Regions from separate parts of the Homo sapiens genome. Here all the other regions are linked to region 3. Evidence: fine-mapped expression QTL. A gene starts in region 3. Each other region holds a variant in brackets. All regions are shown on one strand. Distances are between the middles of the regions.

Evidence for each region. PIP is the estimated chance that this variant, and not a neighbour inherited with it, causes the effect.
Region 1: its variant is the best candidate, but not a certain one, in a credible set for the expression of NUBPL in fibroblasts (GTEx, PIP 0.70).
Region 2: its variant is the best candidate, but not a certain one, in a credible set for the expression of NUBPL in nasal epithelium (TOPMed, PIP 0.59).

What each region holds. Positions count from the first base shown.
Region 1 is chr14:31,630,505-31,634,747 of GRCh38, reverse strand. The region is part of intron 4 of NUBPL (NUBP iron-sulfur cluster assembly factor, mitochondrial); the gene reads right to left. Among named protein-coding and RNA genes, the nearest start is that of NUBPL, 71 kb to the right of the region's middle. The variant G/T (reference allele first, on the strand shown) is at 1,715.
Region 2 is chr14:31,710,020-31,714,262 of GRCh38, reverse strand. The region is part of intron 6 of NUBPL (NUBP iron-sulfur cluster assembly factor, mitochondrial); the gene reads right to left. Among named protein-coding and RNA genes, the nearest start is that of NUBPL, 150 kb to the right of the region's middle. RefSeq lists an enhancer at 3,809-4,243. The variant T/C (reference allele first, on the strand shown) is at 1,941.
Region 3 is chr14:31,559,161-31,563,403 of GRCh38, reverse strand. It overlaps NUBPL (NUBP iron-sulfur cluster assembly factor, mitochondrial), which reads right to left and starts at 2,000. Exons shown (of 11, transcript NM_025152.3): 1 at 1,857-2,000; 2 at 1,189-1,336. The coding sequence starts at 1,964. It overlaps NUBPL-DT (NUBPL divergent transcript), which reads left to right and starts at 2,073. Exons shown (of 3, transcript XR_943720.2): 1 at 2,073-2,293. RefSeq lists enhancers at 1,276-1,831, 1,758-2,157.

The sequences.
Region 1 (4,243 bases), 71 kb before region 3:
GTGCTGGAGAGGATGTGGAGAAATAGGAACACTTTTACATTGTTGGTGGGACTGTAAACTGGTTCAACCATTGTGGAAGTCAGTGTGGCGATTCCTCAGGGATCTAGAACTAGAAATACCATTTGACCCAGCCATCCCATTACTGGGTATATACCCAAAGGACTATAAATCATGCTGCTATAAAGACACATGAACACGTATGTTTATAGCAGCACTATTCACAATAGCAAAGACTTGGAACCAACCCAAATGTCCAACAATGATAGACTGGATTAAGAAAATGTGGCACATGTACACCATGGAATACTATGCAGCCATAAAAAATGATGAGTTCATGTCCTTTGTAGGGACATGGATGAAATTGGAAATCATTATTCTCAGTAAACTATCACAAGGACAAAAAACCAAACACCGCATGTTCTCACTCATAGGTGGGAATTGAACAATGAGAACACATGGACACAGGAAGGGGAAGATCACACTCTCGGGACTGTTGTGGGGTGGGGGGTGGGGGGAGGGATAGCATTAGGAGATATACCTAATGCTAAATGACGAGTTAATGGGTGCAGCAAACTCAACATGGTACATGTATACATATGTAACTAACCTGCACATTGTGTACATGTACCCTAAAACTTAAAGTATAATAATAATAAAATTAAATTAAAAAAAAAGAACTGATTTTGTCGCTTTTCTTCTTTTACTGTATTGCCCACCATTTTATATTGGGTGACTAAAAGTGCATTCACTATATCCCTTCAGAATATGCCTGGACACAACGTTCAAACCTGGGAACCCTAAGCAGGTGGGATACTGACAAAGTGATCCATGGCTAGAAAGGCAACCAGAACGGCAATTATATCGAAAATTGCATTATATAAGAAAAAGCTAAAGACCTAAAGTTGTTTTTCTGAGCTCATCACAGTGTGCAAATATTTCAGAGGTTATCAAAGGAAAAAGAATTAGGTGATTCTCATGAGGACAGGACTAGGAATAATATGTGAAAGTTATTAGGAAGCAAGTTTTTGACCAAAATAAGGAAAAACCAGTTAATAAATAGAGCTGTCATGGAACAACAAAATCTCCCTCAGTGTTGATGCCAGACCATTATTTATAATGCATTTGTGGATTCTGTAACTCTGAATATCTACAACGAGCAAAAGCTTTGCATAATAAAATCACTGAAGGTAATCAGAAGATCCTGGTTCTTATGTTGGCACTTCACTAATAATGCGCGTGACTGAATCTCAATCATTAAATAAGCTATGTGACTGTATCTAAATCTCATCAGTAAAATAAACTTGCAAAGATCTCTCCAAGCTCTAAAATGTTATAAAACTACGACTAATTTCTACTCAGTTATTAAAATGCTCAAATATGTTTCTGAAATTTTTTAAAAGTGTTTTATTTTTAGAATACGTTATATGTTTGGTGATAATCTGTGGTTATGTGTGGTAACAGCACCACTGCACCATGCAACCCACCTCGGCTGCCAGTTGCAAGAGGTGAAGGTGGTTTGAAGATACTGCTGCAGAGAGGTAGGTCAAAGGCCATGCACTATGCACCTAAAAACAGGACTGAATTTCCACAAACTGAGTGGCATACACAGCCAAAGATGCAAAGCAGCAGCATCTTTCCTGGATGCTCCAAATTTGTTGCTAATTACCAGATATCACCCAGTAAATGTTCACCCATTCTGTTTATAGCAAAGAAT[G/T]CCTCACACTGAGCTTCCTCTAAATGACTTACAGAAAGTCTGAATTAAACCTAAAATTACCCATCCATGTCTATTAATAATTTAAAAGTAGAAATATGTAAAATATAGATTAACATATAAATATTTGCCACTACTATGCTTCAATGTTAAATAAACCACTTTTATGGACGTGAATATTTTCTTCTTTCCCTATGGATACTTTTCTTAAAATACAGTGTGGATTATGGAGTATCTAAATCCTGACCTATTACTACAATGGGCAAACTTGATTAATTTTTAATATCACCAGCTTTATCAATAAAATAACAGCATCTGCTGATGAGTTTAAACAACTCTGGATAATTTAACATTATTTCTTCTTGCTTTCATCAGTTCTTCAGAACATACATGGAAGACTACTTTGGGAGTATTAGAAAGGCAAGAAAATAATAATCTATAAACTATTTTTTCTCTCATTTCAAACTTTGTGTATCTTGAAACACCTGTTTCTAAAGGAAAGGGGCCAGGCAGCTACTCCAACCTAGCTGTCTTTGCCAAATATTTCCAACTGCCCCTCCAGTTCACTCTGCCCGCTGCCGCCCCAGGGGTTTCTATACAGACTGCCTCAAAAGCAGGAGATCAGAAAGAAGGAGGAGAGGGTGGTCAAGGAATTTAATTTCCTGGCTTCCTCTCTGTAGGGTAGCCCCAGGCTGGCTAGGTCCTCCACCAAGTGTCATTGTTCCTCCGAAGGCAGACATCTCTACAAGACTCTCTCTCAGATTTGGATACTCCTTCCCCCCAACTCTTCAGGTGTAGGGACAGTAAACTGCTCCAGTATTGCTCATCAGTTACTATCCTATCTGTTGTTGTTTCCCTACACTTCTCCCACATCTTGTAAATAGTCCCTCTCAAATTATTCTGAATATGCTATGTGTTTTGGTTGGAAAGTAGCCCCAGGAAACAACCGTCAAAATGAGATTGAGATTAATCTAGAAACTCCAGGATTATCTCCATGCTGGGAGGAAATGGGAACACAGGTACTGATTCATTATTATACAACTTAGATGAAGGGCAACCCTAAGAGTTTGAGGAGTATGATGATTAATTTTTATGTCACTTTGGGCCACCGTATACCCATAAATTTGGTTAAATATTATTCTGGGTGTGTCTGTGAGGATGTTTCTGGATGAGATTAACATTTGAATTGGTAAACTAAGTAATTCAGGTTGCCCGCCTTCATGTGGGTGGGCATCATCCAATCCATTGAAGCCCTGAATAGAAAAAAAAACGGGGGTGGAATAAGGGAGAATTCACTCTCTGCCTATCTTTGAGCTTGGATGTCGGTTTTCTGCCTTTGGACGTGGACTTGGACTCAGACTGGAATTTACAGCACCTAAAACTTATATCATTGGCTATACTGGTTCTTAGACCTTTGGATTCATACTGGAACTACACCATTAGCCCTTCTGGGTCTCCAGCTTGCTGAATGTAGATCTTGGGACTTAGCCTCCATAATTATGTGAGCCAATTCCTTATAATAAATCTCTTTGTGTGTGGGGGGTGGGGTGGGGGTGTGTGTGTGTGTATTATTGGTTCTATTTCCCTGGAGAACCCATACTAATACAAGTGGCTATGGCACTTAATTGCTATAAAAACAAACGTGATTATACAGATGATGGATTCATCTGACTTTTTAGTGGTGTAGAGAATACATAGAGGGAAAAAAAAGTAACAGCTATAAATGGAGCTTTGCTCCTGGCCATAAAAGAGCAACAGAAATGGGACTTAACCCCTGAGTAGCCCCCCAACCCACACACACACAGACACCTGTAAAAAACTAGAAAACTGGACAAAACATAAAAACTATGTTTTAGACATGGAATTACAGCAGGGAAGACTATAACTCCTGAAAAAAGAAAAACAAGTGAGATGAGCTCTATGACTGCCCCAGTTTATTGTCCTGGAGACAGCTTCCAGGCTGAAAAACAGGGAGGGAGAATCCAAACAGAGCCCATTCATCTTGGTGAGTTGAGAAAAGAAAATGAGAGTTAGGGGAAGCCAAGGCAGCTGGAATTTATGGAGCAGAATACTGGGGAGAAAGGAGACATAGAGAGAGAACTCCCCACAACTGCAGAGGGGTCCTGTGGAGTTTTCACATGAATGAGAAAAATTACCCAATGGTGGGGAAAGAATCACTGGAGATACAAGCTGTATAATTCCCAGAGATTGCACACAGCTGAGAACAGTTTATGTTCCCATCAGTCAAAGGGGAAAGATCTCACAATACATGGAGCATTGGGTAGAGAGTCATTAGAAAGATATTGCCTTAGTAAAGGGGTAAATTAGCCCTTGACACTAAAGGCTGCTCTGGACCCACCCAAGGAAGCTCAAAAGCCTCAAAATAACCAAACTGATTCCAGGTAACTTAAATGCATACGACAGAAACTGGAAAACTGTTCTATAAAGGGGCAGATGATAAATATTTTAGGCTTTGAAAGAGGTATATGGAGGGACTTCTAGAACTAGGCAGAGTGTGTCAAGATATTCATG
Region 2 (4,243 bases), 150 kb before region 3:
CACAAAATGGCTACCACTGCCAAGTTGATCATGTCTTTATATTCCCTACAAAGAAAGAGGAAGAACAAAACCTGCCTTTCTATTAGGAAGCAAAACATCTTACATAGAGGCTATCTCCACAGACTGTTCCTTGTGTCTCATTGGTTAGAACTGGTTCACATGGCCACACTCAGCTCTAAGAGCAACTAGATTATCTTTTGACTTTCTAGACCTACTTTTAAGCAGTAAAGAGACAGGGGCTGGGAATAGTTTCTACATAGCCAATCAGTACTGTCTTCCACATGCATGTTTAAATGCTGATGGAAAAGAGTTAGTAAAGACTAAGAACCAGATACAGAAGGGAAGAGGGCAAGAATGAATTCAGATACAGATACATTTTTAAGGAGGCTGGCTGGTAATTGAGAAAGTTTGCACCATATAAATTTAATTTTCTTTGTGAAACAGAAAATGGAATCATGCATTAAAAGTAAAGGGAGAGGTAGAAGGACAGAGGTCTTCAGAATAACAAAGCAGATTTTAAATAGTTCCTACGGAGAATAAAAGAGAGGGCTGCCTAGAATAACAGGTTTCTAAGCAAGAGAGAAAAAAAATAGAAGAAAAATTTCCTACGGGTTGTTGAGCAAGGCTAGAAATCATTAATTCATAGTGCCATCCACATGCCACTTAAAAGGACATCTCTAGCAGCACCCAGCAGCCCAAGCGTAAGAATAGAGAAAGTCGAATGCTGAATCCATTCTAAACTGGAGTTTATGGGTTTAGAGTAAAAGGAATGTACCAATGGGTTTGTGGCACAACTGAAAGGGAAAGATACGAAGGAGCTGAAATTATCAGCAAGCCAGTGACATAATGTGCCATATATAAACATGTTAGGAAAAAAATGAAAGGTACAGAAAGAGTGAAACAGTCAAGGAATCTGACATATAATGGCCTTAATAAAAGAACTCAAAGACGAAAAACTATGGTAAGGTAATTAAGATGAATACTTCAAGGGGATAAAATTCCTGGTGTGCCATGAGAGTGGAGTTCAAGGGCACTCAAGTTGAGAAAGGGAAGAAACTAAAAAGGCTAGTGAAACCAACCCAGTAGTTTTTTAAAATAAATATAGAAATTGACCCTTCTGGTCTTAAAGCTTAAAACTAACGTTTGTCTTATTTAAGTTCCTTTCTCAGGAAATGATCCTCAGCCTTCTCAAAAAGTATCAAAGAACTGAAACTCACCAGATCACCACATCCAGACAATGAGATGGCAGACCCTTCATCCATCAGGTTGCTCCCTTACCCCTCCCTAATTCCTATGTTCCTAAGTGGTCACCTGCTTCTCGTTAACCAGTTCCTCTTCCTTACCCCTCCCTAGTTCCTGTTTTCCCACACATAATTACATTTCTTCCCTGCTATAATAAACCCCCAATTTTAGTTGGTCAAGGAGATGGATTTGAGACTGATCTCCCATTGTCTCAGCTGCTGCACGTGATTAAAGCCTTCTTCCCTGGCAATACTCATTCTCTCAGTGACTGGTTTTCTGTGCAGAGAGCCACAGGACCCAGACCAAACCCCTGATGTTTTGGTAACACTGGTGAGAGGTGACAACATGCTACCAGCCCTCACTCACTCTTGGTGCCCCCTTGGCCTCGGCATCCTCTCTGGCTGCACTCGAGGAGCGCTTCAGCCCGCCACTGTGCTGTGGGGGCCCCTCTCTGGGGCTGGCCGAGGCCGGAGCTGGCTCCCTCTGCTCGCAGGGAGGTGTGAAGGGAGAGGCATGGGTGGGAGCCAGGGCTGCGTGCCTCACTCACAGGCTGGCACAGGTTCTGGGTGGGCACGGCTCCACAGGCCCCGCACTGGGCGCAACCAGCCAGTGCCTGCTGGGCTTGATCAGGGGACGAACTCCCTCTGGGCTGCCAGAGTGCCGGGGCTAGGTGCTGCAAAGTCCTGCGGCGAGTACCA[T/C]TGGTGAAGCCATCTGGGCTTCTGGGTTGGGTGGTGACCTGGAGAACTTTTCTGTCTAGCTAAAGGTTTGTAAATGCACCAATCAGCGCTCTGTGTCTAGCTAAAAGTTTGTAAATGCACCAATCAGTGCTCTGTCAAAACGGACCAATCAGCTCTCTGTAAAATGGACCAATCAGTAGGATGTGGGTGGGGCCAGATAAGGGAATAAAAGCAGGCCACCCCAGCCAGCAGCCAGCAACCCGCTCCGGGTCCCCTTCCATGCTGTGGAAGCTTTGTTCTTTTGCTCTTCACAATAAATCTTGCTGATGCTCATTCTTTGGGTCTGCACCACCTTTACGAGCTCTAACACTCACTGCGAAGGTCTTCAGCTTCACTCCTGAAGCCAGCGAGACCACGAACCCACTGGGAGGGATGAACAACTCCAGACGGGAGGAACAAACAACTCCGGATGTGCCATCTTTATGAACTGTAACACCCACCGCGAAGGTCTTCAGCTTCACTCCTGAGGCCAGCGAAACCATGAACCCACCGGAAGGAATGAACAACTCCAGACGCACTGCCTTTAAGAGCTGTAACACTCACCGCGAAGGTCTGCAACTTCACTCCTGAAGTCAGCAAGACCAAAAACCCACCAGAAGGAAGAAACTCTGGACACATCTGAACATCTGAAGGACCAAACTCTGGACACACCATCTTTAAGAACCGTAACACTCACCGTGAGGGTCTGCGGCTTCATTCTTGAAGTCTGCGAGACCAAGAACCCACCAATTCCAGACACATTTTTGCAACCACGAAGGGACTATCACCTATCGCCAAGCAGTAAGACTATCGCCTATTGCCAAGCAGTAAGACTATCACCTATCGCCGAGCGGTGAGTACCACTGGACCCCTTTTGCTTGCTATTCTGTCCTGTTTCTCCTTAGAATTCAGGGGCTAAATACCGGGCACCTGTCGGCCAGTTAAAAGCTACTAGCGCGGCAACCAGACTAAAGACACGGGTGTCAGGCTTTCTGGGAAGGGGCTCTCTAACATCCCCTGACTCTTTGGAGTTGGGAGCGTTGGTTTGCCTAGAACCAGCTTCCACTTTTCCTGTACTTCTGGGCCGAGCCAAGGGTCGACAGAGAGGAAAGCCATTCAGCTCCGGGGTCCGAACAACAAGTTGGTTGACCCTGTGGCCATGAGCGGAACCCTCAAAGGCATGTCGCCCAAGCGAGACTCACCCATCTATCCTATCTATCCTGACCCTTGCCTCCTGGGTCCTAATGCCTGTCAGACAAACTTCCCCTCACCTCTCTTCTCCGAGGTTAGTCCTGCTTCTAAAAATCACTCCCTGTCTCTGGTGCTTTTCTAGTTTCTCCTATAAGAATGATTTCTAGTATAAACTCCAGGACTCTATTTCCTTCTTTAGGCACCCAGGCTCACCAATCAGAAAGACATAATTTTTCCCAAAGCCCCATTGTAGGGGGAACTATCCGGAATTTTAGGATCCCTCCTCAGACAAGCAGGCCTAACAAAAGCTATTCCTGAAGCTAGGATATGGGGAGCCTCAGAAATTGTATCCTTCCTATTCATATAAGTGAAGACAAAAGGTGTCACTCTTCCAACCCTGGAGATCCCTTCCCTCCATCAGGGTATGGCCCTCCACTTCATTCTGGGGGCATAACATCTTTATAGGACACGGGTAAGGTTCCAGTACTAACAGGAGAATGTTTAGGACTCTAACAGGTTTTCGAGAATGCGTCTGTAACAGCCACTAAATCTGATTTTTCTCTGTCCTCCTTGTGGTCTAGGAGGACAGGAAAGGGTGCAGGTTTTCGAGAATGCGTCAGTAAGGGTCACTAAATCCGACCTTCCTTAGTCCTCCTTGTGGTCTGGGAGAAAAGCTAGTGTTTCTGCTGCTGCGTTGGTGAGCGCAACTATTCCGATCAGCAGGGTCCAGGGATTGTTGTGGGTTCTTGGGCAGGGGTTGTTTCTGCTGCTGCATCGGTGAGTGCAACTATTCCAATCAGCAGGGTCCAGGGACCATTGCAGGTTCTTGGGCAGGGGGAGAAACAAACAAACCAAATCTGCGGGCGGTTTTGTCATTCAGATAGGAAACACTCAGGCATCAACAGGCTCACCCTTGAAATGCATCCTAAGCCATTGGGACCAATTTGACCCATAAACCCTGAAAAAGAGGTGACACATTTTTTTTCTGTGCTACAGCCTGACCCCAATACTCTCTCTCTGATGGGGAAAAATGGCCACCTGAGGGAAGTACAAATTACAATACTATCCTGCAGCTTGACCTTTTCTGTAAGAGG
Region 3 (4,243 bases):
CTGTTTAAATGCTTTCACATTTCATGGCAACAATCATCTTCCAACTAAAAATAATAAACAAACAATCTTAAACAAGTGCCAGCCTACAGACCCAACAAATTACAAAACGCAAAGAACTTATGGCTACAATCATGAAAACACCTTCCATCCTTATCCAGTTCAAGTAATCACAGAGCATGCAAAAGGATTCAAACCACTGAAAACTGAAAAATGTACTCCAAAAGGTTCTAGAACCAAAAACTAAGAGCTTCTAAATTTTAAAAACAACCAGATGGATTGTAAACCTTTAGGAAAGAAAGGAAAAATGTGCAGGAGAGCACATGAATTCATTAAGAACAGATTATTAATTTTTTTTAACAATATGGTATCTATCAAATAGTAATGGATTAGTGATCCACCACAAATACAATATTTGGTAAATCTTAACTTTTCCAAAACATCTGACAAATTCTTCCAGAATTCCCTTCTGATAAAAATGGGGAAAAATGAGCTAGTAGGCAGGGCGCGATGGCTCACACCTGTAATCCCAGCACTTTGGGAGGGCTAGGCGGGCGGATCACGAGATCAGGAGATGGAGACCATCCTGGTTAACACGGTGAAACCCCGTCTCTACTAAAAATACAAAAAAAAAATTAGCCGGGCGTGGTGGTGGGCGCCTGTAGTCCCAGCTACTTGGGAGGCTGAGGCAGGAGAATGGCGTGAACCCCGGGAGGCGGAGCTTACAGTGAGCCGAGATTGCGCCACTGCACTACAGCCTGGGTGACAGAGCGAGATTCCGTCTCAAAAAAAAAAAAAAAAACAAAAAAAAAAAGTTACTAGATGTTTTAAAAATAACAGCAACCAATTATTGAACACTAGTAAACACTAAGCTAAGTGGTTAGCTTGTGCAATTTGAATAACCATCTTATGAAAGAAGTTATCTCCATTTTACAGTTAAGTGAACTGAAGATTTGCTGTACAATCTGACCACTTTTTCCTGAGTTAAGGGGTGGGAGACCCGGCTAGTACCTACTTTTGTCTAACTCCAAAATCTAAGCGTCTACCCGCTACCAACTCCTGAAACTAAGGAATCACATGTTAGGAACTTCACAAATAAATTTTTAAAACACAAAACTATAATTTCAATAGTGTGCACTTGTCTGTTGGCATAAGTTCTTAATCAGGAATAGAATTAATATCCTATAATACCTGCTGTAGTAGATTTTCCGACTCCACCCTTTCCAGAAGCCACAACTATAACTTGTTTAACACCTTCTATCGGTTTCTGCTTTGGAAGTCCTCGGGACATGATTTGTGTTCTTCTTTGTTTTAGGGTCTCACTCCCGGCGCCAGACAACTTTAAAAAATAATAATAATAAAAAGCCGTTTTAAATAAGCCATCTCCATCATCACACTGTAAAAGCAAAAACAATCTGGGGTTTGCAATTAAGAGGGCTTTCTTTTCTAATTCTGCTCATCTTCACTATGGAGACATTTACCTACTACTACTGATAACAATTGTAAAGACACATTGCTTAAATTGAAATTTTTCTAGCAGGATACGCTGAACGTTTAAAAATGTAAAAACGCTGCCTCTTTACGGAGATAAGGCTTCCACGTGTTTTGCTTTTCTTCAATCTATTTGATAAATAACCCAAAGCCAAGAAAGCAATGTAGAATACCACATCTACGTTCTAACTGTGTTTCAAGTCCCGCCACGCCTCAGCCTGGGCCTGCCTGAAAAGTAGGCACGTCCAGCACACTGGGGGTCTCAGGAACTGAGGCGAGTCTTTGGCAAGAAGCAATGCCAGGGCATCTGCGGCCCTGCAGCCCAGCATCTGTCAGCCCGCTTCCCCCTGCCCTGCAGCACCACGGACCTGGCGCCCACAAACCATCGCTCGGCTTCCCCCAAGCGGGGCAGTGGCCCCGCCACCAGCCCGGAGCGACACCCCACCAAAAAGCAGCAGACGCTGCCAAATCCCCATGACGCGGAACGCTGCTGTGAGCCCTGCTGGGAAACTGTCGCGGGTGGCGCGGAGTGATGACGTCACGGAGCAACGCTCGGCTTTCTCTTCCTAGCAACCGGTCTTCTTTGGGTTTGTTGGCTCAGGAACCCAATCTGCATGATCTTGTTTATAGCCAGCTACAAACATTTTGCAGCGTTTTACTAAACGTTTGTGAAGTGTTGTCATATAAAACATCTCTTATGATACTTACAGAAGTCCCGAGGTAGACAGAAGACTTACCTAGTATACTCTTTTTATGGACAAGAAAACGGAGAAAGTTTAAAGAGACTTGACCCAGCTTAACAAAAGTAGGAAATGGGGGACCTTGAAAATGACCCCAGGATTTCTTACTAAGCAGTATATGGTCATTTAAATACTACCACCGTTAAGGATTTTACCTTTTTATTTTATTTTTTCCCGTGTGATCTACAGTGAGAGTCTGTTTTGCGTTGGTATTCATGGCTTGTGTTGCTGACAGTTCCCTGAAAGAAAGGTCAGGTTGCTTTACCAGCAACCTGGTAAAGAACTTTGCAAGTTCTTCCAGACTTAAGACTCATTTATTTAACAAATATTCGTTGAGCAACTACTATGTACCGAGTACTACAGTAGACTTAAAATATTCAGCATTGAGACCGACATAATTCCTCCACTAAAGGGCTTTATAATCCAGTGCAAAAGACAGAATAAGTTAACAACAAAATTGCGGTATAATATGATAAGTACAGGAGAAAAGCATTGAGGGATACAGGAGAAAGGACAAAGTGATACAAAGAAAGGGCACTCAATTCAATCAGGGGAAGCTTCTAAATTAGGTAATATCTAAGCTGAATGCTGAATCTGAATAATGTGTAGAAGTTAGCTGGGAGAATGGCAAGGAGATTGTTGTAAAGAGGTTAGAAATGGACTGCTAAGGCTAGGCATGGTGGCTCACGCGTGTAATTCCAACACTTTGGGAGGCCAAAGCAAGAGGATTGCTTGAGCCAGGAGTTCAAGGATGCAGTGAGCTATGATTGCACCACTGCACTCCAGCGTGGGCAGCAGAGTGACACCTTGTCAGAAGAAGAAGAAAGAAGGAAGGAGGAAGGAGGAAGAGGAAATTAAAAGGAGAAGAAAGAAGAAGGAAGAAGAAAGAAGAAGAGAGTAGAAGGAAGAAAGATGAAAGAAGAGAGAAAAGCCCCCGCCCGGCCAGCTGCCCCGTCCGGGAGGGACGTGGGGGGCAGCCCCCATCCGGTCAGCCGCCCCGTCCCGGAGGGAGGTGGGGGGCAGACCCCGCCCGGCCGCCACCCCGTCCGGGAGGTGGAGTCACCTCTGCCCGGCCACCCCGTCTGGGAAGTGAGGGGCCCCTCTGCCCAGCCGCCACCCTGTCTAGGAGGTGTACCCAACAGCTCATTGAGAACGGGCCATGATGACGATGGCGGTTTTGTCGAATAGAAAAGGGGGAAATGTGGGGAAAGGAAAGAGAGATCAGATTGTTACTGTGTCTGTGTAGAAAGAAGTAGACATAGGAGACTCCATTTTGTTCTGTACTAAGAAAAATTATTCTGCCTTGGGATGCTGTTAATCTATAACCTTACCCCCAACCCCGTGCTCTCTGAAACATGTGCTGTGTCCACTCAGGGTTAAATGGATTAAGGGCGGTGCAAGATGTGCTTTGTTAAACAGATGCTTGAAGGCAGCATGCTCGTTAAGAGTCATCACCACTCCCTAATCTCAAGTACCCAGGGACACAAACACTGCGGAAGGCCGCAGGGTCCTCTGCCTAGGAAAACCAGAGACCCTTGTTCACATGTTTATCTGCTGACCTTCCCTCCACTATTGTCCTATGACCCTGCCAAATCCCCCGCTCCGAGAAATACCCAAGAATGATCAATAAATACTAAAAAATAAAAATAAAAAAATAAAAAAGATATCAAAAATAAAAATAAAAAAAGAAAGAAGAGAGAAAAGAAGAGAGAACACAAGAGGAGTAGAAAATACATTTCTTTTCTGGATTGTTAAGAACTGTAAATGATCTGTGCAACTTAGGACAAAGTGACTAAAAGAGATGAGGATGGAGTGAAGGTTGGTTAGATGGAGGTTGCCTAAATCAAGAAAGGCTGTATATATCTTGTAAAGAAATTTGGACTTTATCCTAAGGGAACTATAGAAGGATTTTAAGCAGGAAAGTAACATCAGATTTGTGTTTTAGAAATACCACTATGATTACTGGGTTAAAAAAGAAATGGATCAGCGGGGCAAGATCAGAGACAAGGAGACAT